Regions from separate parts of the Homo sapiens genome. Here regions 1, 2, 3, 4 and 5 are each linked to region 6. The links come from fine-mapping of genetic effects on gene expression. A gene starts in region 6. Each other region holds a variant in brackets. All regions are shown on one strand. Distances are from middle to middle.

Region 1 (4,084 bases), 52 kb before region 6:
AGCAGGTGAATGGATGGGTAGGTGGGTGAGTGGATGAATGGTTGGGTGGGTGAGTGGAGGGATGGGTGAGTGGATGAATAGGGGATGGATGAATGGATAGAGGGATGTATGGATGAGTGAATGGGTAAGCAGGTGGGTGGATGGATGGACTAATGGATGGATGAGTGGGTGAATAGGTGGGTGAATGGATGGGTGGGTGGGAGGATGGCTGGCTGGCTGGCTGGCTGGCTGGATGGATGGATGGATGGGTTAGTGAATGGATAGGTGGATGGATGAAAGGAGGGATGCATGAGTGGATAGGTAGATGAGTGGATGGATGGATGAAGGGATGGCTGGATGAATGGACAGAGGGAGAGAGGGGGGATGGAGGGAGGGATGAGTGAGTGAATGGGTAGGTGGGTGGGTGGATGGATGGATGGAAGGAGCGATAAATGAAGGGATGGGTAGGTGGTTGGATGGATGGATAGATAGATAATGGAGGGATTGATGAATGAAGGGATGGATGCATGGATGGGTAGATGGATGGATGGATGAAGGGATGGATGAGAGTGGATGGACAGGTGGATGGATGGATAGGTGGATGGATGAATGGAGGGATGGATGTGTGGATGGGTAGATGAAAGGATGGATGAAAGGACGGATAGATAGATAGGTGAGTGAGTGAATGGATAGGTGGATGGATGAATGGAGAGATGGATGAGTGGATGGGTAGATGGGTGGGTGGATGGATGGGTGAAGGGATAGATGAATGGATGGACAGAGAGCGGGAAGGATGGATGGAGGAAGGGATGAATGAGTGGATGGGTAGGTGGGTGGGTGGATGGCTGGAGTGTGGGAGTGTGTGTGTGTGTGTGTGTGATAGGGCCTCACTCTGTTTCCCGGGCTGGGAGTGTGTGTGTGTTTGTGTGTATGTGTGTGTGTGACAAGTTCTCTGTTTCCCAGGCTGGAATGTGTGTGTGTGTGTGTCAGAGCCTCACTCTGTTTCCCAGGCTGGGAGTGTGGGAGTGTGTGTGTGTGTGTGTGTGTGTGTGTGTCAGAGCCTCACTCTGTTTCCCAGGCTGGGAGTGCAGTGGCACAATGAGAGCTCCTTGCAGCCTCAACCTCCTGGGCTCAACGGATCCTCCTGCTTCAGCCTCCCAAGTAGCTGGGACCGCAGGTGCCCACCACCACACCTGGCTAAGTTTTTGATTTTTTTTGTAGAGACGAGGTCTTGCTATGTTGCCCAGGCTGGCTTCAAACTCTTGGGCTCAAGCGACCCCCCCTGCCTCCACCTCCCAGAGTGCTGGGATTACAGGCATGAGCCCTGCACCCAAGGGTTTGTGCTTTTTTACAGTGTTACATAAATGGCATCCTGCAGCACGCACGCACTCCTTGTCTGACTTCTGTCACGTAGCATAACTATTCTGAGATCCATGCTTGCTGCTGTGTCTGTTGTAAACACTCATTTTTATTGCCACAGCATGGGTACACCCCAACCCGCTCATCTGTTCGTCTCTTGGTGGACATCAGGGTGGTTTCCAGTTTTGAATGATGGAAAGTAATGTGGCCATTTACATTCACACACAGGTTTTCAGAAGGACATACATTTCCTTTACTCTTGGGGAGAGGCCTAGAAATAAAACGACTAGATGCCGTGGGAGGTGTGTGTGAAACTTGTTCAGAAACGGCCTAGCTCTCATTTCTTGTTGCAGTTGGAATGGTTCATCTCGCTGACTTTGGCCCTTCCTAGACGTGGAGGGTGCGGTCTGTGATTTTGGCTTGCGTGTCTCCCGGCACCAGGGGTGCCGTGCAGCTTTGCACGTGCTACTTCACCACTGATACATCTTGCTGGGGGAAGCATCTGTTCAGATCTTTTGCCCGTTGCTGTAAAATTGGGTTATTTGTTTTCCTATTGTTGAGTTTGAGAGTTCTTTCTTTCTTTTTTTTTTTGAGATGGAGTTTTGCTCTTGTTGCCCAGGCTGGAGTGCAGTGGCGCCATCTTGGCCCACTGCAACCTCCGTCTCCTGGGTTCAAGCGATTCTCCTGCCTCAGCCTCCCAGGTAGCTGGAACTACAGGCATTTGCCACCACGCCGGGCTAATTTTTGTATTTTTAGTAGAGGTGGGGTTTCACCATGTTGTTCAGGCTGGTCTCGAATTCCTGACCTCAAGTGATCCGCCTGCCTTAGCCTCCCAAAGTGCTGGGATTACAGGC[G/A]TGAGCCACCGTGAGAGTTCTTTGTATATATTCTGAATCAATCCTTGATGAAATAGATTTGCAAAGATTTTTCTCCTGGTTGGTGGCCTTGTCCTCTCACCGTTAACCATCTGAAGAGCAAATTTTAAACATTTTTGATGAATTTCAGTTTGTCAATTTGTTCTTTTAGGAATTGTGCTTTTGGTATCATGTCTGAGAAATCTTTGCCTTATCCAGAGCCATAAAGATTTTCTCCTGTGTTTTTATGGCTCCAGCTTTACATTTAGACCCACGATCCTTTTTGAGTTAATGTTTGTGTATAGTGTGAGGTACGAATGCAAATTATTCTTCTTTTTCTTTTTGCATATGGAGATCCAGTTGTTCCAGAATATGAAATTGCTGCAGCATGGTTTCTTGAAGAAGCTACAGTTGTGCACCGAGTCGCCTTTGCACCTTTGTCAAAAGTCTGAACTGTGCATGGTGGTGGGTGCCTGCGGTCCCAGCTACTTGGGCGGCTGAGGTGGGAGGATCCCTAGAGCCTGGGAATTTGAGGCTGCAGCGAGCAGAGATTGCACCACTGCACTCCAGCCTGGGCAACAGAGTGAGACCCTGCCTGAAAAAAAGTCATCAGTCTGTGTGTGTAAGCTGATTTCTGGACCGTTTTCTTTTGGATCTACTTGAATATTTTTACACCAGTATCACTCAAGTTTTGCTTACACTGGTCTTATATGAATTCTTAGAATGTTAGCTCTTCAATTGTGTTCTTTTTCCGGATTGTTTTAGCTCTTCTCCTCCTCTGCTTTTCCATATGTGTTTTAGAATGGACCTGTGAATTTCTATAAATGCAGGGAGAGTTGACATCTTAACAGTATTGAACTTACTAATCCACGAACCTTGGATGTCCCTATTTATTCAGGTCTTCTTCCACTTCTTCCAAGGATTTTTTACTCTTTCAATTTGGAGGTCTTTCACATCTTTTGTCAGATTGACCTCTAAGTATTGTCTATTTTTATACAGTTAGGAAGTGGTATTTTTAATGTCAATATCTGATAGTTGATTACCATTTTATAGAAACACAATGGACTTTGTATATCAGTCTTGTTATTCCACAACCTTGTTAATCTCACTGAGTAGTTCTTGCAGGTTTTTCTTTTGTTGTTGATTCCATCGGGTTAGATGGTCACGTTATCTGTAGATAAGATTGTTTTCTTTTTCCTTTCTCGTCTGTATGGCTTTTATTTCTTTTGGGGGCCTAATTGCACGAGCAGGAACCTCCAGGTCAATGTTGGACGGAGGTGATGAGGGCGGACATCCCAGCCTCCTTTCTGTTCTTAGTGAGAAACTGTTCAGTCTTCCGCCATCGGTTGTGGGGTTTTCATAGATATCCTGTATTAGGTTAGGGAAGTTCCCTCTATTCCTAATTTACTGAGTGATGTTTTTTAAACAAATCAGGAACCGACGTTGGATTTTTCAAATGCTTTTTCTGTACTGTTAAAAGAAAAACCTTAGACAAATTAAATTTAACAGAGTTTAATTAAGCAAAGAACCACTCGCTAATGGGGCAGCCCCCAAACCAAAATAGGTTCAGAGAGGCTCTGGTGCTGCCGTGTGGCTGAAGATTGGTGGACAGAAAAGGGAAAGGAGGCACAGAAAACGGAAGCAAAGCACAGAAACCGCCAGAGGGGCTGCAGCTCCATGCTTGCCTTATCTGAACACGGTTGGAATGGCCGGCACCCTTGATGAGCGGAAACCTGGTGAGTGGCACAAGGGAAGGCTTCAGTCTGTTTACGTCTCCAGTGAGGTTTCAGTTCACAGTGGATGGAGAAGGCGGAACATAAACTATGTCAGGAGGCAGCTTTACGCCAAGCTTAATTTAACGATTTCCCCCTTTAGACATTGGTGTCCCTGTCGCC
Region 2 (4,084 bases), 28 kb before region 6:
TTGAGCCCACAGCTGGGCCGAGCGGCCTCAGGCTGGATCCAGCCTGGGGGCTCAGGTCAGCTCAGGGCATGAGGAGAGGCTCAGGACCCTCTTGGTCTCCACCACCCCCAACCATGCGCACTGGGTGCTGGGACCTAGATTGAGGGGCCCCGGCCACCATCTGGGGGCCACCCAGGCAGGGAGCTGCAGCCAAGACACTCAGGAGGCCATCCTCCCTCCCACAGCCTGCTCCCCACTCCCTGGGCTTGGCTCAGCATTTGCCAATTTCAGAACCCCCCCATCCCCCAACAACTGCCCTAGAGCCAAGGCCCCGTGGTCCGTCCTCAGACTCCTCCTGGGTGGAAATGCGTCCCCAACCCAGGCTGGGCCTCCCTTGTGCCCTGCCCCCACCCAGGTCTACAGTCCCCCAGGAGGCCCCTGCCCTGCCTCCTCTCCTTGGACCATCCCGGTCCGGCCAGATGGCAGCAGGGCATGGGTTACCTGGTGCAGGCCCTCGAGGCCGCTGGTGCCTGCTCTGTGCAGTCCCTGCTACGCCTCAGGCCCAGCGCCCGAGGGGGAGGTCGCCGATACCCAAAATAAAACCTGCCCTATCCCTCTGACCTCAGCTGGCTGGGCGGAGAGCGCCTGCCAAAGCTCCAGGAGCTGGGCGGGCAGCACCTTCCCCTGCTGGCCACACGGGGCCAGTGCAGGGTTATGGCACACCCACCTTCAGGTGCGCCCCTCAGGACCCCTGGCCTGGGTGAGGGCTTGGGTGGGCACAGGCTTCCTAGGCCTGCAGACTGAACCACGTGTAACCAGAATGGTGGGCTCAGGGCTCCGTTAGAGAAGCCGGCAGAGCGAGCCTGGAAAAGGAGGTTGGCCCCACCATGGGAGAGGATGGGGTGGGCCCGCTGACCCCCAGGGACCCGCTCACGTGCCTCTGAGGGAGCAGTTCTGCAGATGTCCCCAGTGGGCAGGAAGCTGGTCACAGATATCCAGGGGCCAGGGCTGTTTGTGGCCCCCAAAGCCTTGCCCATCGAGGACATGGACAGGGAGGGGAAGGCGTGGAATGCAGACGAAGCCACAGACCCAGAGCAGGAGGACGGCGACGTTCCCAGCAACCCCAGCTCCAAGAGCCTTCCCAGTGCCGGGCACTCAGCGGGAGGCAGGCAGGGGACCGGCCCTGTCCTTTGAAATGGCAGCCTGGGGCCAGCCCGCCTTGTCGTGTGACCCCAGGCACACCTTGCCTGTCCCTGGGCTCTGCGGCCTCGCTCTTCCATGGAGGGGTGGAATGAGGTGCCAACCACAGCCTTCCGGAAGGCCCCCGACCCGGCCCCAGGGCACTGTGAGCCCCTGCCGGGTTATCCTGTTGTCCCTGACTCTAAGCCTGGGGAGGACAGGGACCTCATCTGTGCCTCTCGGGACTCACCCCTGTCCTGGGCGCTGGCCAAGAAGGAACCAATCTGTGCCTGAACCGAAGAGTTCCGCAGACACCACCGCCCACGCTCAGCCTGTGGGGTCTGAGGGGAGTGAGGGGGTGGGTCAGGGTGCCAGACTGCTCTCCCCCACCTGGTGCCTCAGTTTCCCTGATCCAAGAGGCAGGGTTATCCAATCTGGTGGCCTCACTGGCCAGCATACAGGCCATCAGAGGCCAGGAAGGATGTCTGCTAGTCGGACGGTGCCACCTGGAGTCCTGAGGAAAGAAAACCAGTCTCCACACGCCACAATGAGCCTGTGGGAGATGCTGGCACAGATGGTAACGGCCACTGCGAGTGCCCAGGGTGGGGCCCCAGGGTTAGAAAGGGCCTAGAGGGAGGACCCAGACCCTTACCCAGCAAACTCCATGTGTAGCCCCCTGCAATGGCAGCAGCCCCGGGGGGAGGTATGGCAGACTCGGACTGCAGCCAGCCTGGCCATGTCCCTCGCCCGCTTATTGTGTAGGCCCCAACGGTGTCTAGCCAGGAAAGCAGAGCTGGCCTCTAAGAGGGTCTCAGATAGGGTGGGGGCCTGGCCTCAGTTCCATGGGGGGTCTCCGAGGCCTCAGGCTGCTTCCTCCCCGGGGGAGACAGC[G/A]AAGGGCCTGGGGCATTGGGCCGGGCGGCGGGAGGGGACCCCGGCTGTGCGGACCCTTTTCCTGGACAAATGTTTACTCCCACAGAACATCTCAGAGAGAAGGGGCGGGGGGGTGGGAAACCCGGCAGCCTGGCTCTGGGGACCCCCACACTAGTTTGGCCCAAAGAGAGCCTCGGCTTGGTGCCCCGGGGCCACCCAACACCTTCCTCCTCCCTCCTCAGCCCATCCAGAATGTACCCGCTGCTGGGAGTAAAAATAGCAGCTGACACCTCCTGGAGGCGGAGGGAGGACCTTGCCTCCTTCTCCAAGCACGTCCTCTGCATCCTGGCCTCCTTCAGCCTCCTCCTCTGGCCATTCCTATACTTGGTAAGGGGCCTGCACGGGCATAGCCCCCCCCAGCAAGACTCCGCACACACCCCGGCCACCCAGTCACTGGCCAATGGGCTCCTAGGAAGATCAAATGTCACTATAACACGAGGGTGTGAGCCGGGCGCCAGTGCCTGCAGCCGGTGCTGTCCACAGGGAGCTCCAGCCCTTCTCACACTCGACCCGCAGGTGGGTATAGGCAGGAGCGGCCACCCAGGACTGGGGCCGACGGGGCCTCCTGCGTGCGGGTGGACAGCCCCTCGTTCCAGGGACACTCTGGGGTCCTGGGGCGCTGAGGTCCCAGGTCCGTGTGGTGCCGAGCATCTCGAAGCATCATGGCTCGGAGCCCCCAGGTGGCTGCTCCAGCGTCCGGAGAGTCTGGGATGCGGACATGGTGGTGTGATGGTCTCAGCACCGGGAGGATGCAGAAGAAGGCAGAGTGTGGGAGGCCAGGAGGGGGCAAGTCGGGGCTCAGGGAAGCTCAGTGCTAGGGAGTGGCCTGAGGGCAGGAGGCAGAGAGGTGCGGGCTGTGAGCGGCAGGGAAGAGGCTGTGCAGGGGTGCTGCCAGGGCTTAGGTTGCCAGCTTGTGGTCGCCATGCAGACATTTGCCCAGGCCCGTCCTGGCCTTGCCATGCAGCTCTCGCACCTGGGCCTCCAACACCGCCATTTTGTAGAGATGAAAACGAGGACAGGAGGGCAGGGGCTCCTGTATGGCCAGCCCGAGTGTGTTGGGGTGGGGGCGTCTAAAGCCCACGCAGCCTTGGGGGCCAGCGTCTGGAGGTGCAGGACAGAAGTGGACAGGGGCTGGACTGGGGCAGGACGGGGCAAGAGTGAGGGGCTGGGCTTCATCGCGTCCCCCTGGCTGGAGGCTGGAGAAGCTGGCGCTCGTAAGAGCCCCCACCCACCCTCCCTGCCCTGGACACGGTCCCCCTGACTTGTGCCGTCTGATCAGGCCTTGGCTGCCCCTCCTGAAGTCCACGGAGGGACATGGGGCAAAGCAAAGGTTGGCTGGGTGGAGAACAGGTCTGGGGGCATGGTCAGGGCCACAGCAAGCAAGGGGCAGCGGCTTTTGCCTCCCCACCCTGCCCTGGCCCCGTCACCTCCCAAGGAGGGAAAGGTGATGCATACGTGCCCGAAGAAACTGACCGCATAGGTTATTTTCACGCAGCCCCTCCAAGGCAGGCACTAACTGGACACCTGCTTTGCGTCTCAGCTGTTGAAATGCCATCCCCTGCCCCCAGCACACCCCTGCCCCCAGCACACCCCTGCCACCAGCCCCTCCCCGCAACAGAGGCAATGACACAGGCCATACTGGGGGGAACAGAACAGCCTTGTGTTGCTTCCAGGCGCTCAGCAGAAAACCAGGTGCCTCAGTTTCCCCACTTGGAGAGTGGGCCTTTCCAGCGCACGTCGGGGGGCCTGGAGGTCACCCTGCCTGAGGGTGTTGGGGCACCCATGTGACTCTGGCCTGGGGGGACAGGAGGGAAATATGAGGAGCTGGGGAGGGCCTGGGTGCCCGAGGGTGAGGGGGCAGCTGTGGGCCAAGGAGGGCTGGGCTGTCACACCCGCCTCACCCACGTCTTGGGTTTCTGGGCAGAAACGTCTTGCCTATTTCTGGACACCTCAGCTGCCACTGGCTCCTTATAAATAACCCACCCCAGGCGAGGGC
Region 3 (4,084 bases), 41 kb before region 6:
GCGCAGTGGCTCACGCCTGTAATCCCAGCACTTTGGGAGGCCGAGGCGGGTGGATTGCCTGAGCTCAGGAGTTCAAAACCAGCCTGGGCAACACGGTGAAACCCCGTCTCTACTAAAATACAAAAAATTAGCCAGGCATGGTGGTGCATGCCTGTAATCCCAGCTACTCCAGAGACTGAAGCAGGAGAATTGCTTGAACCTGGTAGGCGGAGGTTGCAGTGAGCAGAGGTGGCACCACTGCACTCCAGCCTGGGCGACAGAGCAAGACTCTATCTCAAAAAAGAAAAAAAAAAGAAGAAATTTAAGGCCAGGTGCAATGGCTTACATCTGTACACCTGTAATTTCAGCACTTTGGGAGGCTGAGGCAGGTGGATCACTTGAGGCCAGGAATTCGAGACCAGCGTGCCACCACACCCAGCTAATTTTTGCATTTTTAGTACAGATGGGGGTCTCACTATGTTGGGCAGGCTAGTCTCGAACTCCTGACCTCAGGTGATCCACCCACCTCAGCCTCCCAAAGTGCTGGGATTACAGGCGAGAGCCACTGCGCCCAGCCTCTTTATTCTTTTAATCTCTGCAGAACCTGTACTCCCGCTGCCTCTCTTGTTCCTGATATCGGTAATTTCTATCCTTCTCCTCCTTTCCCCGGGCCCTTCCCCATCAAGTTGGCTAAAGGTTTATCAGGATTACTGATATTCTTAAAGAACCAAGTTTTGGTTTTCTCAATTTTGTTCTATTATTTATTGTTTTCTGTTTTATCAGCTTCTACTTGATGTTTACTATTTCCTTTCTTCTGCCCACTTTGGGTTTAATTTGCTTTTCTTTTTCTATTTTCCTTAAGCTGAGAGCAAGGTCATTGCTTGAGAATTCTTTTTTTTTTTTTTTTTTTTTGGAGACCGAGTCTTGCTCTGTCACCCAGGCTGGAGTGCAGTGGCGCGATCTCAGCTCACTGCAACGTCTGTCTCCCAGGTTCAAGTAATTCTCCCTGACTCAGCCTCCCGAGTAGCTGGGATTACAGGCACACGCCACCACACCTAGCTAATTTTTAAATTTTAATAGAAACAGGTTTTCGCCATGTTGGCCAGGCTACTCTCGAACTCCTGACCTCAGGTGATCCGTCTGCCTCAGGCTCCCAAAGTGCTGGGATTACAGGCGTGAGCCACCGCGCCCGGCCTTCTCTCTTTTTTTTTTTTTTTTTTTTTCTGAGACAGAGTGTCGCTCTGTCGCCCAGGCTGGAGTACAGTGGCGTGATCTCAGCTCACTGCAACCTCCGCCTTCTGGGTTCAAACGATCCTCGTGCCTCAGCCTCTCTAGTAGCTGGGATTATAGGCGTGTGCCACCACGCCTGGCTAATTTTTGTATTTTTGGTAGAGACGGGGTTTCTACCAAACCCTGGTAGAAATGTTGCCCAGGGTGTTCTTGACCTCGTGGGCTCAAGCAATCCTACCACCTTGGGCTCCCAAGGTGCTGGGATTACAGGTGTGAGCCACCACACCTGGCCAGTTAAACCATATTTCTTACAGGCAGCACAGAGTTGGGCTTTGCTTTTTTATCAATCAGACAACCTCTGCTTTCTTTTTGTGGGGGGGACAGGGTCTCACTGGCATCCAGGCTCGAGT[G/A]TATTGGTGCAATCACAGCTCATGGCAGCCTTGACCTCCAGGGCTCAAGGGATCCACCTGCCTCAGCCTCCCGAGTAGCTGTGACTACTGGCACATGCCACCACGCCCAGCTAAAGTATTTTTTTTTTTTTTTTTGGAGAGATGAGTTCTCCCTCTGTTGCCCAGGCTGGTCTTGAACTCCTGGACTCAAGGGATCCTCCTCTACCAGCCTCTAAAAGTGCTGGGATTACAGGAGTGAGCCACCATGCATGGCCCCTCTGCTTCTTAATAGGGGAGTTTAGCCCATTGATATTTAATGTGCTTACTGGTATGGTTAGGTTAGAGTCTGTCACCTTGTTATTTGCTTTCTATTTGTCACATCTGTTCTTTTCTCCCCTTTACTCTTTTTCTGCCTCCTTTTGCGTTCATGAGAAGTTTTATTCGTTACATCATCTTGTTTGCTGGCTTTTTCGCTGTAACTCTTTGTTTTGTTATTTTAGGGGTTGACTTGGGTTTTTAGTTGTTAGCTTTAACGTCCCACAGTTGGCTCTGAGTGACTGATATTTCCTCTTTTTTATGGGTCACCCTTTCCTGCTTCTTTGTCTTTTTGATAATTTTTTATTGGAATGCAGACATTGTAAACTTTAACTCGGGTGGGAGCTAGATACTTTTATATTTCCACAAATATTCCTGAGCTTTGTTCTGGAATGTAGCTGTTTATCTGCAAGCAGTTTGATCCTTTCAAGTATTACTTTTACCGTTTGTAAGGGAGGTCTGGAATAGTGTGGGCTAACTATTCCCCACTATGGAGGCAAGCTGTTTCTGAGCCCCCCACCGCTGTGCGTGATAGGGTTTTCTGCTGAGGCTGGTGGGAGCAGACACAATTCCTAGGTCCATGTGAGCTCCCGGCACTGGTCTCTCTAGTCCTTTCGGATTGTGCTTTCCCGCCTTGGGACGTTTTCCCTGGGATGTGCTGATGGCTCAGTCCCTAATACTCCAGGGGGACTCTCGGGTCTCAGCTTCTCTCTCTGGGCAGCTCTCTGAGCTTCACGAACTTCAGCTGCCTGGAGACCCCCAGCTCTGTCTCATCAGCTCAGGGACTCTGTGGGCTCCACCTCAACTCCCGCTTCCCGCACTGAGGCCTGGAAACCCACCAGAAAGTGCATGGGCAGCGAGAGGCCCCTGAGGCCAATTCCCAGCCCGGGAAGCACTGTTGTGCACGGCCCACGTGTGGGATCTTGAGAGCCATTGTGTTGTGTATTTTGTCTGTTCTGTGTTGCTGTTTGGTTGTTTCATTGTCCTGTGTATTTTGTCTGTTCTGTGTTGCTGTTTGGTTGTTTCAGGCAGGAAGATAAATCCAGTCCCTGCTACCCCATCTCAGCCAGGAGTGGAAATCTGCCTTTTAATTTTGGTGGACATGTTTGGATAGACAGAAACTTGAAATGGTGAAGTGGTGAAATGGGCTGAGCTGCCCTTTTCTTCCATCATGTTTCCACTGTTCTAAAGCTGGAAACATTGTTCCCCAGCATGAAAGCAGATAAGTGTGCAGCACACATCTCTCTAGCTTATTTATCTATTCGAGATGGAGTCTCGCTCTGTTGTCCAGGCTGGAGTGCAGTGGCGCAATCTTGGCTCACTGCAACCTCGGCCTCCAGGGTTCAAGTGATTCTCCTGCCTAAGCCTCCCCAGTAGTTGGGATTACAGACTCCCGCCACCATGCCCGGCTTATTTTTTTATATTTTTAGTAGAGACAGGGTTTTGCCATGTTGGCCAGGCACGTCTCGAACTCCTAACCTCAGGTGATCCAACCGCCCCGGCCTCCCAAAGTGCTGGGATAACAAGCGTGAGCCACCGCGCCCGGCCTCTAGCTTTATTTTTAACCATTTTTTTTTTCACATGTCGTAGCCTCTGTAATTCACCTGGAATGTATTTTGGCATTTGATGTGGAGAGCAAATCTCACTGCCTTTTTTTCCTCCCCAGTGCATACCTGATTTTCTCGACCTCTTTTATGAAATATCCCCGCCAGACTCCCTCGACCGTGCCACCCCCAGGTTCCCGTGCATACACAACATTGCGGGATAGGTATTGTGGAATGAGGATCCGTGTTACGACCTACAGAAGATGTGGCTGTGAAGTCAGGAGTCACGGTCTCAGAGTTGACTGCACTGCCTCGTAGCTGTGTGACCTTCAGGATTTTGTTCAACCCCCTCTGAGCTTCAGTTTGCTCTCTGGGAAGACTCCAAGGATAAGAGCATCTACCTCCTCAGCCTGCTGTGAGAGTTAACAGGGCCAGGGCCAAAGACGCTTTGTCTGACTGCTGGTCTGCGGGGAGCTCTAAATATGAATCTGCTACATCACCTTCACTTTTGAATTCGGCTCTGATGTTCCAAATGTTCTTGGCCGTTCCTTCGTGTTTCTCCTGTACGAATTTCAGCTTCTTTTTGCCAAGTATCTCCCCACCCCCGCCCACCCCCACCCCCAAATA
Region 4 (4,084 bases), 160 kb after region 6:
CAGCCTGGGCCAAGAGGGCAACCCAGGGAGCCCAGGACCTTGTCCAGCAGCTGAGGCCTCTGAGGGGAGAGTGCCAGAAAGAGTGGGGGTGCCAGGGCTCTGTCCCCCATCTTTCCTGGCTTGGGTTTCTGGGAGAGGGGGCGGGTGTTGACTCCCGGAGGGGCTGCCCTGGAAGTCAGGTGGCCTGGCGGTTCCCAGACCTGCCAGCCCTTGCTGAGGGAGCCTGCAGGCTCTTCTCCTTCCCAGGCCTCCCCGGCATCTGAGAACCTTCTCCCCAGCACTGACCCATGGCTGGGAGAGGGTCAGGGCCCTCAGGGAGCCCGGCTGAGCCAGCACGGGACGCAGGGGTCGGCTCCTTCAGACCCCCCCACTTTCGGGCAGCGGTGCCCACGCCCAGCTGGGCAGGGCCGAGTCCATGAGACCCACTGCCCTCCCCGGGAGCTCCCGGCCAGCCGCCCACTGCAGCAGCCCGTGTAAAAGTAACGCCTGTTATGCCAGGAACGTCACAGGGCCCTGGGGCTGCAGACAAGCTGGGTCTTTTTTTTTTTTTATTATTAAAAAGCAAAACCTAAACCAAGAAAACAAAGTGATTAAGTTTCTCCTCAGAACAGCAGGCCCCACAGAAACGAGGAGCGACCGTCCCACTGGGTGCTTGGACCCTCACCCACCACTCGGGAAAACAGCCGAATTCTTCACACAAACAGGAAGCAGCTGGTCTTCCCTGAACATGAGGGGAGGGCTGGGGCCTCAGCATGCGGGCTGCCTAGAAGGTGGCGCTGCAGCCAGGCCCTCGGCTGGGCTGGGCAGTCCCAGCCCTCCAGGAAACGGCCAGGCTGCAACTCCCCCGCCAGGAACCCCTGGGCTTCGCGCTTGACCAGTGGAGCCGTGCAGGTCAGAGGAGGGTGGGCTCCCAGCACACACCCTTCTCTGCCACGGTGGGCTCAGCTGCTCCACCCAGGCTGCCAAGACCCAGCCCAGAGCACACAAACTAGCTGGGCTTCTCATGGGGTACAATGGGAGTGGGCAGGAGCTGGCAGCCATGCTGGGCAGGTCAAGGGCCTTCAAAGGGCTGCCACAGCCCAGCTGGGGCGCTGAGGCCTGCAGAAGCTCACTCTGGTGGCATTGAGTTGGGGAAGGGGTCTCTGTGAGCCAGGTTCAGAAAGGAAGATGTGAGGCAAGTTTTAAAGAAATGTTTTAAAATAGAAGGGGCTTAAAGCAGAAAAGTTTAGCCTGCCAGAAGTTAGAACATGTTCTAGAGTAACAATAATTAAAACCTCACGGTACTGATGCAAAGATGGAGATATAGGCTGGGGAGGAGAAGTGGAAGTCTGGAAGTGGAACCAGCAACCTACACAAAGAACATTAAAACTCCAGAAAAAAAGAACGCTACAATTTAAAACCACAGCGTAGGATCTCAGAAGCCCTTCCAGCAGAGGAGCACAGAGGAGCTGCCTCAGGCATTGTCTTGAGATAATGTGTTAGTAATTTGTAATAAAATTCAATCAAAGAGAACACTTACATCCACATAAAAACCTGCTCACAAGTATTTATAGCAGTTTTATTCATAATCACCAAAAACTTGGAAGCAACTGAGATCTTTCAGTGCGTGAGTGGGTAAACACACAGCGGTACCTCTATGCCGAGGAATGTTATTCGGTGCTAAAAAGAAGTTAGCTGTGAGCCGCAAGAAGACATGGAGGAGCACCAAATGCATGATACTAAGTGAGAGAAGCCACTCTGCAAAGGCTACGCCCGTAGGATTCCACCTCTATGACGTCCTCGAAAAGGCAAAGCTATGGAGACAGTGAAAAGACCGGTGGCTGCCAGCGTTTGCAGGAAGAGAGGGAGGAAGAGGTGCAGAACCATGACTGTGGGGGCAGTGAAACTACTCTGTCTGATAGTCTGATGGTGGATATAGGGCATGATAACTTGCGTCCAAACTCATAGAATGCACAACCCCTAGAGTGAGCCTGGACCTCAGTGTGTGCTGGTGCTGGCTGGTCAATTCTAAGAGAAGGCCCACATATTGCAACATGTGAATAACAGGGGAAACTGTGGTGGACGCATGAGGCAGGAGGTCCATGGGAACTCACTGTGCTTTCCATGTGATTTTTCTGTAGTCCTAACCCAGTTTTACTCTTGTCCAAGGACCGTCTGTCCATCACTTTTTAATGCCACTCTCAGCAGCTCCCTTTGTGGAGAACAAACCCGAGCCAGGCTGTTTACACG[C/T]GCATCCGGTGGGAGCCCCGTGCTCAGGTGCTCGCTTTTGCACAGGGGGACACTGAGGAACAGAAAAGCGAGGCAACACTCCAGGATTTGAAACAGTCAAAACACTTGCCCCTCTGCTAATTATAAGCACAGCTACTGGCCCCTAAGCCTGGGCTCTTCGACCTCGGTTCTCAAATGTTCCGGCCTCAGGGCCTCTTGCATTCCCCAAAGTTATGAACAAGTCCTTAAAGAGAGTGGGTTGATACGGGGTCACCCCTGCTGATATTTACTGTCTTAGAAGTTACAACTAAGACATTGAAATATTTCAATATTTAAAATATTAGAAATTTTAAAAATAGGTTAAATGAATTAATTTAAAAGTCACAACAGAGGCTGGGCATGGTGGCTCATGCCTGTAATTCCAGCACTTTGGGAGGCCAAGGCGGGAGGATCACTTGAGCCCAGGAGTTCAAGACCAGCCTGGGCTATGTTGCTATGTTACCCAGGCTGGTCTTGAACTCATGGGCTCAAGTGATCCTCCCACCTTGGCCTCCCAAAGTGCTGGAATTACAAGGAGGAGTAATCAAAAAGAAAATCTACAAGCACATAAGGCCATTAAAATATCCTTAATTAAAAAAAAAAGCCAGGTATAGTGGCACACACCAGCTACTCGGGAGGCTGAGGCAGAAGGATCACTTGGGCCTGGAAGGTCGAGGCTGCAGTGAGCCTGGATTGTGCCACTGCACTCCGGCCTGGGCCACAGAGCAAGACCCTGACTCAAAACCATATGAAACAAATGAACACAAAACAGTAAAATCACAACAGCAATAATAAACTCACTACTACACATTAACATAAAATATTTGTTTACAAAAGACAACTAGGCTTTTCAAAACAAAGCAAGTTCCGTGAGAAGAGTGAGATGTCTTTGCACTTTGCGAATCTCTGTGGCTTGCTGGAAGGCAGCGGATTCCCATCACGCCTCTGCAGGCTTTGGCCAGCGCATGGGAAGAATGTAGATGAGGACATCTACGAACATACGTGGTTGGGAGTGGGGGGTGGGGGGCGCTGGTACTTTAATGGCCTTATGCGCTTGTAGATTTTCTTTTTGCTACTACACCAAAACTTGACAAGTGTCATTTCTTCAAGCTTAGCTGCAATGCAGAATCTGAAACCCATGACCTTTAGAGACTCCGTGATGTTACAGTCCCTCAGTTTAGGAAACGACAGAGGCATCATAACCAAATGCACCGGGGCTGGGCGTGGTAGTGCACGCCTGGAATCCCAGCACTTTGGGAGGCCGAGGCAGGCAGATCACCTGAGGTCAGGAGTTCGAGACCAGCCTGGCCAACATAGTGAAACCCTGTCTCTACTAAAAATATGAAAATTAGCTGGACATGGAGGCAGGCACCTGTAATCCCAGTTACTAAGGAGGCTGAGGCAGGAGAATCACTTGAACCTGGGAGGTGGAGGTTGCAGTCAGCCAAGATTGCACCACTATACTCCAGCCTGGGCGACAAGAGTGAAACTCCATCTCAATGTGGCCAGGCACGGTGGCTCACGCCTGTAATCTCAGCACTTTGGGAGGCCAAGGTGGGTGGATCACGAGGTCAGGAGATTGAGACCATCCTGGCTAACATGGTGAAATCCCGTCTCTACTAAAAATACAGAAAATTAGCCGGGCGTGGTGGTGGGCGCCTGTAGTCCCAGCTACTCGGGAGGCTGAGGCAGGAGAATGGCATGAACCCAGGAGGCGGAGCTTGCAGTGAGCCGGGATCGTGCCACTGTACTCCAGCCTGGGTGACAGAGTGAGACTCCGCCTCAAAAAAAAAAAAAGAAAAAAAGAAACTCCGTCTCAAAACAAAACAAAAAAAAA
Region 5 (4,070 bases), 96 kb before region 6:
CACCCCTCAAGGCTTCCCTGCTTGGCTCCATCCCCCGGAATCTGATGCCCTCAGCTGGCTCCATCCCAGAATCCAAACTAACTCATCACCTGATGCAGCCGCTTGCTGGTCCCCGTGCTGCTCGCTGGACCCTGCACCAGATTTGGAGACAGGACAACGGAGGGGCCGGGGTCTGCCCTCCACACACCTCCCTTAGAGTTTCAGGCACTGAGGGAAGAAATGATTCTGCATCTGATTCTTGGGTAGACTCTTAGCTCTTCAGAGGAAGGCTCTGTTCCTGTTTAACCTCCCACCCAGCAAGGCCCACACCGTTCTCAAACACGCATGCACTGCCCGGGTGCAGTGGTTCATGCTTGTACTCCCAGCACTATGGGAGGCTGAGACAGGAGGATGGTTTGAGCCCAGGAGTTCAAGACCAGCCTGGGAAACATGGTGAGACCCCATCTGTACACACAAAAAATTTTTTAATTAGCTGGGCGTGGTGGTATGTACCTGTGATCCCAGTTATTTGGGAGGCTGAGGCGGGAGGATCACTTGAGCCGAGGAGGTAGAGGCTGCAGTAAGCCCTGGTTGCACCACTGCACTCCAGCCTGGGTGACAGAGCAAGACCCTGTCACACACGCTCGTGCGCACACACACACACACACACACACACAGAAATGCCCGGACGGCCTGAGGGGTGGCTGGGCCCTCACTGGGGACACCTCCTCCCTTGCCCACGCCTGCCAGTCCAGGCTGAGTGGAGAGAAGGGCTGGAGGCAGGGGCTTGGCCAGGGAGGGAAGGAGTGAGAAGCGGGCGGCCACATGGGCTGGGCAGCCTCCGGGATGCTCTTTGCTTTTGTTTTTTTGTGAAAAGGTTGAGTGATTTGCACATCAACGTGGAGGGTGTAGGGAGGAGAGGCTGGGGGACCGGGAGGAAGGTGGATGGGCCGCAAGATGGCCCTGGCGTCTGCGGAGGAGTAGCTGAGTGAGAGAGCAAGAGTCTGCCTTCTCCACGACGGTGATGTGGGCAGGAGAGAGGGCTGGACGGCCACAGGAGGACACCCTGCACCCTGGCTTCCCTTTCCTCTGCGATTCGGGAGGTGAGGGCGTACATCTGCTGAGAAGGCCTCCCAGAGCCCCGTGAGCATCCTGGAGTGTGCCTATTCCTCGGCCTGGGTTCCTTGAGAACAGGCAGGGCTCCCCCACGCCGTGGCCTGCTTGTGAGACGTGTCGCTGGAGGGGTTGTCCTGCTGCCCTGTGGCTGCCGTGACGTTGAGCTCCCACATTCTGGAAGTCCGAGATCCTGGGGTGGGCAGGACTGGTTCTCCTGAGGCCTCTCCCACTGCTGGGGGTCCCGGTGCCCCTTGGTGCAACTGTCTTGTGGATGCCTCACCCTCATCTCCACTGTCTTCTCATGGGGAGCTCCCCACCGTGGGTGTCTGTGTCCCGTGTCCACATTTCCTCTTTTTTTTTTTTTTTTTTTTTGAGACAGAGTCTCACTCTGTCACCCAGGCTGGAGTGCAGTGGCATGATCTCAGCTCACTGCAATATCCGCCTCCCGGGTTCACGCCATTCTCCTTCCTCAGCCTCCCAAGTAGCTGAGACTATAGGCACATGCCACCATGCCCGGCTAATTTTTTTTTTTTTTGTATTTTTAGTAGAGATGGGGTTCCACCGTGTTAGCCAGGATGGTCTTGATCTCCTGAGCTCGTGATCTGCCCGCCTCGGCCTCCCAAAATGCTGGGATTGCAGGCGTGAGCCACCGTGCCTGGCTCACATTTCCTCTTTTTGTAAGGAAACCAGTCACACTGGCTGAGCGGTCACCCTCCTCCACCGTGACCTCATCCAGCTAATGACACCTGAAGCAACTCCGCTTCCAAACACGGTCACGCTCTGAGGGGTTAGGCTAGGGGTAGGGTTAGAACTTCACCATATGAATGTGGGTGAGGGGCATGATTCAGCTTCAACAGGGTTGGGTAGGCAGAGGGGAGGAGGGCACACTCTCCAAGCCCTTGGGGCAGGCCGATCGTCACCCCAGCCTTCAGCTCCAGGGCCTGTGGGCCTCC[C/T]CCTCCGCCCGAGCGGCTTCGTAGACCTGGGGCTGAGTGTGGTTTTGTGCTCTGTGTCTCCCTCTTGAAATTCTTAGGGTTTTTTTGTTTTTGTTTTGTTTTGTTTGAGATGGAGTCTAGCTCTGTCGCCCAGGCTGAAGTGCAGTGGCACGATCTTGGCTCACCGCAAACTCCGCCTCCCAAGTTCAAGCGATTCTCCTACCTCAGCTTCCCGAGTAGCTGGGCTTACAGCCGCCCGCCACCACGCCTGGCTGATTTTTATATTTTTAGTAGAGATGGGGTTTCACCATGTTGGCCAGGCTGGTGTCAAACTCCTGACCTCAAGTGATCCACCTGCCTCGGGCTCCCAAAGTGCTGGGATTACAGGTGTGAGCCACCGCACCCGGCCAAAATTCTCAGTTTTTGAACCACAGGGTTCTGCATTCTCATTTTGCTCTAGCTCCAAAAGTGAGGCAGCCGGTCCAGCCTTCGGGCAGTAGAGGGCAGGAGGGGGTGGACCCCAGCCTCCACCTGCCTGTCCTCTTCCTGGCAAGGTTCCTGAAGCTCCCAGCGACGATGCTGGGGCTGCCCTTCTGCAGGCCAAGGGAAGGACCTCAAGGGCAGGAGGACACAGGCATTGCACCTGCCGATGCAGTGCCTGGACGGGTGGGTGAGCGGAATGGCTGCAACCTGGAGGCGAGACCCTACCACCATGAGGGGAGCCGTTTCAGGATGGCCTCAGGATGGAGGCCGCATGGTGAGAACCGCAGGGCTCTGCCATGTGCCACTCTGCAAGGGGGACTTGGGGGCCCTTAGGGACCCCCAGGGAGGAGGCGTGGGGAAGACACAGGCATGGCCTGTTCATCTCCATGGCGCTGGGCCTGATCTGGTTTTAGCCCTGCCCATCGTCTGGGCCACGGATCCCTCTGGTGCCTCCACTCGTGGGGCTCTGAAAGCCTCTGCTGGTCTTTGTGGTGTGTTTGGTGGGTGGGGGGCTCGCTGAGTCCCAAGGAGGCGGCCTCCGGTTCGGCCCCACCCTGATGGGTCAACACTCTGGGCCCAGGGCCCTCCCAACCCCTGGCCTCTCTCCAGCCCCTCTTTGCCTTGGGACCCCCTGTAAGTCCTTGCTGGTTGGATTTCTCAGGCCCAGCCGCTGGCCAGGGCTCCCTTCTCCCATTCTCCTGCGCTGAGGTTTCCAGCAGGGAAGCCTTCGCCACCTCTGTGGCTGCCCTACTCTGGCCCAGCTTAAGTCCTCCCCTGCCTCAGCTTTTGGGGTCTGGCTCCTGCAGTCATGCATCCCTCCTCCTGACCCTGGAGCCACTGCGTGGTCACTCCCAGAAGCTGGGGACAGTGAGGGCTGGAAACAGCCTCCATCCCTCCCCTCGGGCTGGCCTATGCCTCTTGGGAGGGTCCCTGAGGCACTGCCTTTAGAGCCTGGGGACACGAACCACTCGGTGGTCAACTCCAGCGACCAGAGCACGGAGAGCAAGGGGCAGCGGGGGGACGAGGCGGATGCCCGACAGCTCGGCATCAGCAAGGCAGTCCAAGACAGAACAAGGCACCCGACGGGTAGAACGCAGGGGCATCCCGGGCACAGCCCCCAAAGCCACCTGGGACCCACAGCTGTTTGATGTGCTCAAGGCTATGACCCCAGGCTTCGAGAAAAGACTCCACCAAGTTCCATGAGCACCTGTAGGAGAGCCGGCCTCTGGGTAGATTTCACCCAAAGAAGCTAAAACGCTCACGTGGTGCTTATGGGATCACAGACGTGTTTGTCCCTGATGCTGCAGGAGAACTGGCCACTCACAGGTGGACCTGATGGCCAGAGCTACTAGCGGGGACCAGGGGTAACATGGGTCCCCCTCCCCGAGCCATGAAGAGCTGCCTGCGGCCATCTTGGCCCTCGCACCCCGTCTCTGTCACCCCAGGCCCCTGTAACTTGCTTAACGCTTCCTGAGGGGTGGTTTGGGTTTTTTTTTTTTTCTTCCTCTCCTCTTGTAGCAACAGATTAAAAAACAACACCCTGACCCAAGCCGAGACAGG
Region 6 (4,084 bases):
GGAGGAAGAGGAGGTCTCCACTGGCTCCCCAGGCATCTCAGAGACCCCCCATACTTAGCATGCCTTCCGGAGGATCCCATTAGCAGACTATCAGAGAAACAGGGATGGAAGGAGTGGTGAGGGGTCTGCTCCATTGTGACCCCACCCCTGCCTCGCCCTGAGGAAGGACCTCAGCTCCTAGCTCAACCGCCGCCCTCCAGCAGCCCCAGTGATCTGAGCAGCACCCACCCGTGACCCACAGCTCGGCCTCCAATCACCCTCCTCTCCACATCGGCCACCCACAACTCTGAACCCAACTTCCAGCAGCCACATATCTCTAAGCACACTGCACAATGTGGCTGCCGAAAGAGGCAGCATTGCATGAACATAAAAGGAAGCCTGAGGACCCCCGGCCCCAGGACCCCCCTTCTCCAGCTCCATCCCTGTCCTGCGGTCTGCTCCTTGGGCCTGGCCAAGGGCACCTGCTGCTGGGCAAAGGCCTGTCTGGTCACCAGCCTCCTGGGACCCTGCCACTGGCAGCCTGGAGCTTCTCCACCTCACGCAGGCCTGGACAACAGTGGGGACGGCTGCCACCACCTTCCCTGCCCACTCTGGCCCACTTCTCACTCCATCCTGCTTCAATGCCTTCATGCTAGATAGACCCCCTGGAGTCATTTCCACTCAAACCCACCCATCAGGAGGAACTCCAGCCCTACCCGGCCCAGGCCCTCGGAGGGGCACAGTGCCCTCTCCTCCTCCTGAATTTCCATCAACCCCAGTGCCCTCCCGCAGCCCTGTTCCCACCTGCAGGCCTGGGCCCCCTGCCCCCAGCAACAACCAGGACCCATGGCCCCGCTTCTTGCTCTGAAGCATGACACCCCTGCCTCTTGCTCTGAAGAACACTTAGGGTGCTGTTGGGTGCGGGAACAAGCCAGGCTTGGGGGTGGGGGGCACGGGCAGTTAAAGAGATAGATGGAGAAGTGGCCTGAATCCAGCCACCAGGCAGAGGAAACCAGGGGAGGAGGGAGAGGCCTGGGGACAGGGGAGGGAGGCTGCTGCCCTCTACTCCCGAAGGGTCCCAGCAGCCCTCCTGGCCAGCACTACCCAAGGAAAGGAGTGAGGACTGGGCCTTGGACGGGGGTCCCTGTAGAGAGGGCCTTGCCAGAGGCTGGAGGGGGCTGGCCAGAAGGGTGGAGAGGGGGTGAGCAAACGGCAAGGCCTGAAGAGGCCAGTGGCCCTCTTGGAGGAGGCGTGGTGGGAGCACCGAGGATGGACAGCGTGGCTGGTGTGGCCAGCGTGGGGGCTGCCAACCGGGCTGGCCAGAAGGGCGAGGTGAGGGGCCCTGGGGTTCCGGGCTCCCGGGTAAAAACAGCCAGATGGAGAGAGGGGCTTCAGACCCCAGGCCCGGGGACCCGCCCTCCCCAGCACTACAGCCCCGGTTCTCCACTTCCAGCTCCCAGCAGCTGCAAGCGCAGCGGTGCGGGGCCAGGCTGTGGCCTGGAGCTGCCAAAGGGCAGGGGCACGGGTGTGGGGGGCGTGCAGGCCGGGGTCCCGGGAGGCAGGGCAGACAGGCCCGAAAGAGTGCGACGGCGGCGGGAGGTCTCTGGGGCTGGGAGGGGTGCGGGCGTGGGCGGGGCGCGAGCAGCAGGGGCGCGGGCCCGGGCTTCAGGCTGTGGGGCCGGGAGTGCGGGGCGGGACTGCTGCGGCCCCGCGTCCTGTGGAGTCTGCGGCGCGGGGAGTGGGGGTCGGGGCGGGGAGGAACGTGGGGTGCGGGACAGGAGGGGGGCAGGGAGGGAGAAGAAGGCGGCGCGGGGCGGGGCGGGCGCAGGGCTGGGGACGGCACGGGCGCGCGGCACGGGCGCTGGCGCGTGCGGGGGGGGCGGCGCGGCCTCCGGAAGCGAGGGGGCGCTGTGCCAGGCGGCGGCCGTGCGGGGCGGGCGCGCTGCTCCTTCCGCCTCGCGGACCCCGGAAGCGCGCGTGGCCGCCATGGCGCGGAATGTGGTGTGAGTAGGGGTCGTCACCCCCCCGTCGCGGGGCGCCCCTTAGTGTCACAAGCAGACGGACCCCACAGGGCGCGCGGACTCCGGGGAGCGGGGTGGGCGTCCCTGGGCCGCCTCCTGGCCCGGGCGAGGCAGGGTTCTCCGGGACCCCCTGTCATGCCTTGAGACACGCGAGGCGGGTGGCGGAGGAGCCCCCCGCCAGGTTTAGGGCAACCCCAGGGGGCGGGCGTGGCCGGGCTGGGGACAGAGGGTCCGAGCCAAACCCATGGAGGCCACGGTGCCCCCGCGTGGGGAGTGGGAGGGTGGCCCGGGGTCAGGCCCGGGGCTGGTCCCGCAGCCAGGGCCGAGGGAGCTGTTTGGAGACGTTTCTGATCGTCACGGGGCGGGGGCCACGTCGGCTGTTGGGTCCAGGCGGGGAGGCCCGGGCGGCCCCCACCGCAGCGCGGGCGCGGCCTGAGGCAGAGGAGCTGGGAATCCAGATTGGGTTTGAGTGGGAAAGGGCAGCTGACCGCAGCCCTCAGGGCTTTGGGGCAGGCAGGGCGGGAGGCCCGGTTCTGCTCAGCCCAGACCCCCCACGCCCACTCTGCATGTTCTCTGGATTCCCAGGGGGCCATCGGGGCGCTGTCCTGCACCACTTCGCCCTCCCCAAATTGAAGCAGGAAGCCCTGCATATTTCTTGGTGAACGAATGACTCAGGCGTAATCAGTAGATGTGGGCTCCCGGGTGGGTTTTGGAGAACAGTAATCAGTGTTTCTGGAGAGGGACGGTCAAGGGGCCAGGGTGTGGCTTTGGAGGCCCCTGCACATAGCTGGGGAGAGAGGGGAGGGTGGCAGGTGGGACCCCCAGTGGAGGAGGCTTCCTTCAGCAGACACCTGGGACCGGTGCTGCGCGTGGCCCTGACCTTGGGGAACACCCAGCACCAAGGAAGAAAAGGTCTGAGTGAGGCCAACACTGCCCTGAGCCTCACGTGAATTCCACGCTGGCCCTTCGCCTGTCCCTGGAGAATGAGGAGGAAGTGAGGGTCAGAGGACCCGGGTGGGGTGTTCCTGAAGGGCCAAGGGTGGTGGGCCCCTGGAAACGGATCAGGTGTGGTTGCCTTGGAGGCAGCGGGGCCCGCTCGCCCAGCAGTGCACACACTCCTGTTGCCAGGGAGCCTTTGCAGGGAGCGCTGACTGGACTTGCTGTGGACTGGATGCAGCTGGGGTGGGGGTGCCGAGAGGGTGGGATCCTGGGTGAGTCACTCGTGGGGCCGTGGGGAGGCAGGCTGGTGGCAGTGAGCCAGGTTTTTGTGTTTTGAGGAAGAAGTTAGTGCAGAGTTCTACTTGAGATAGGTTACCGTGGAGGTGCTTGTGAAATCCCATGCGGAGTGCTTGGGGTGCTCCCTGGGGAGAGTGGGACTGAGGGAACTGAGGGCTGGTGGGCCCACAAGGGTTCGAGAACAAAAGAGAGGCCTTAGAGCCCTGTCCTGGGGCCCTGGGTGTCGACAGTGCAGATTGTTCCAGATCTGCAGGCTCCATGCACAGGCAGCTGGCGCTCCAGCCTGGAGAGGCTCGGCCTGTGGGAACAAGGACAGTGAATCGTCCTGGCCCAACCCCTGCCAGCCTCTCATCTCAAGCCCACACATGGCCCTTCAGACCCTTAGCAAAGTGTGCCCTTCAGGCCCCAAGCCTGGAGACTCGAAAATTAATGGCCTGGGAGCTGTTGAACCCTCTTTTCTACTGTTTACTGGGAGTCCCCAAACTTTGTCTCCACTCCTGCAGTCCCACAGCTGGTCACCAGAGGGAATGTGTGAGCCCCTCGGGTGGCCATGGCTAGCCTGAACCTGTGGGTAAAACAAGTCAGGCCCCTCCACCTCCAGAGCCCACCCTTTCTTCTCGGCCTCTCACTGGGGCCCACCCCTGAAGGCTGCACTCTGAGGCTTGGAAAGGCCAAGGCCATGCCCAAGAGGAGGCTCTGCTGGGGTTGGGTGAGTGAAGACTCAGCCCCACTGGCCCGGCCACCAGGCTGCCATGTGTCAGTGTGGTCATCAGGAGGCCTGGGGTGGACATGATTAGTGATCGGGCTTTGTTACAGGCGCCTTGCCTCTGAGAGGTCCCAGCAGCTCC

What was found. PIP is the estimated chance that this variant, and not a neighbour inherited with it, causes the effect.
Region 1: its variant is fine-mapped to the expression of MRPL23 in whole blood (TOPMed, PIP above 0.99).
Region 2: its variant is fine-mapped to the expression of MRPL23 in whole blood (TOPMed, PIP above 0.99). The same link has a PIP of 0.9 or more in cerebellar hemisphere, cerebellum, fibroblasts, subcutaneous fat, thyroid and tibial artery.
Region 3: its variant is fine-mapped to the expression of MRPL23 in whole blood (TOPMed, PIP above 0.99).
Region 4: its variant is fine-mapped to the expression of MRPL23 in whole blood (INTERVAL, PIP above 0.99).
Region 5: its variant is fine-mapped to the expression of MRPL23 in whole blood (INTERVAL, PIP above 0.99).

Annotation. Positions count from the first base shown.
Region 1 is chr11:1,893,221-1,897,304 of GRCh38, forward strand. It overlaps LINC01150 (long intergenic non-protein coding RNA 1150), which reads left to right and starts at 3,539. Exons shown (of 4, transcript NR_120534.1): 1 at 3,539-3,925. It also overlaps a transcript of PRR33 not described here. RefSeq lists an enhancer at 3,600-4,084. The variant G/A (reference allele first, on the strand shown) is at 2,193.
Region 2 is chr11:1,917,159-1,921,242 of GRCh38, forward strand. TNNT3 (troponin T3, fast skeletal type) reads left to right here and starts at 2,545. Exons shown (of 16, transcript NM_006757.4): 1 at 2,545-2,604. It also overlaps a transcript of PRR33 not described here. The variant G/A (reference allele first, on the strand shown) is at 2,050.
Region 3 is chr11:1,904,253-1,908,336 of GRCh38, forward strand. It overlaps LINC01150 (long intergenic non-protein coding RNA 1150), which reads left to right. Exons shown (of 4, transcript NR_120534.1): 4 at 3,580-4,084. It also overlaps a transcript of PRR33 not described here. Among named protein-coding and RNA genes, the nearest start is that of LINC01150, 9.5 kb to the left of the region's middle. RefSeq lists enhancers at 2,235-2,736, 2,737-3,236. The variant G/A (reference allele first, on the strand shown) is at 1,620.
Region 4 is chr11:2,108,937-2,113,020 of GRCh38, forward strand. No RefSeq gene overlaps it. Among named protein-coding and RNA genes, the nearest start is that of MIR483, 23 kb to the right of the region's middle. The variant C/T (reference allele first, on the strand shown) is at 2,230.
Region 5 is chr11:1,848,925-1,852,994 of GRCh38, forward strand. No RefSeq gene overlaps it. Among named protein-coding and RNA genes, the nearest start is that of LSP1, 2.1 kb to the right of the region's middle. RefSeq lists enhancers at 558-1,544, 2,891-2,940, 3,932-4,070. The variant C/T (reference allele first, on the strand shown) is at 2,049.
Region 6 is chr11:1,945,398-1,949,481 of GRCh38, forward strand. It overlaps MRPL23 (mitochondrial ribosomal protein L23), which reads left to right and starts at 1,935. Exons shown (of 5, transcript NM_021134.4): 1 at 1,935-1,982. The coding sequence starts at 1,966. SNORD131 (small nucleolar RNA, C/D box 131) reads left to right here and starts at 3,934; the gene lies at 3,934-4,079. RefSeq lists an enhancer at 3,864-4,084.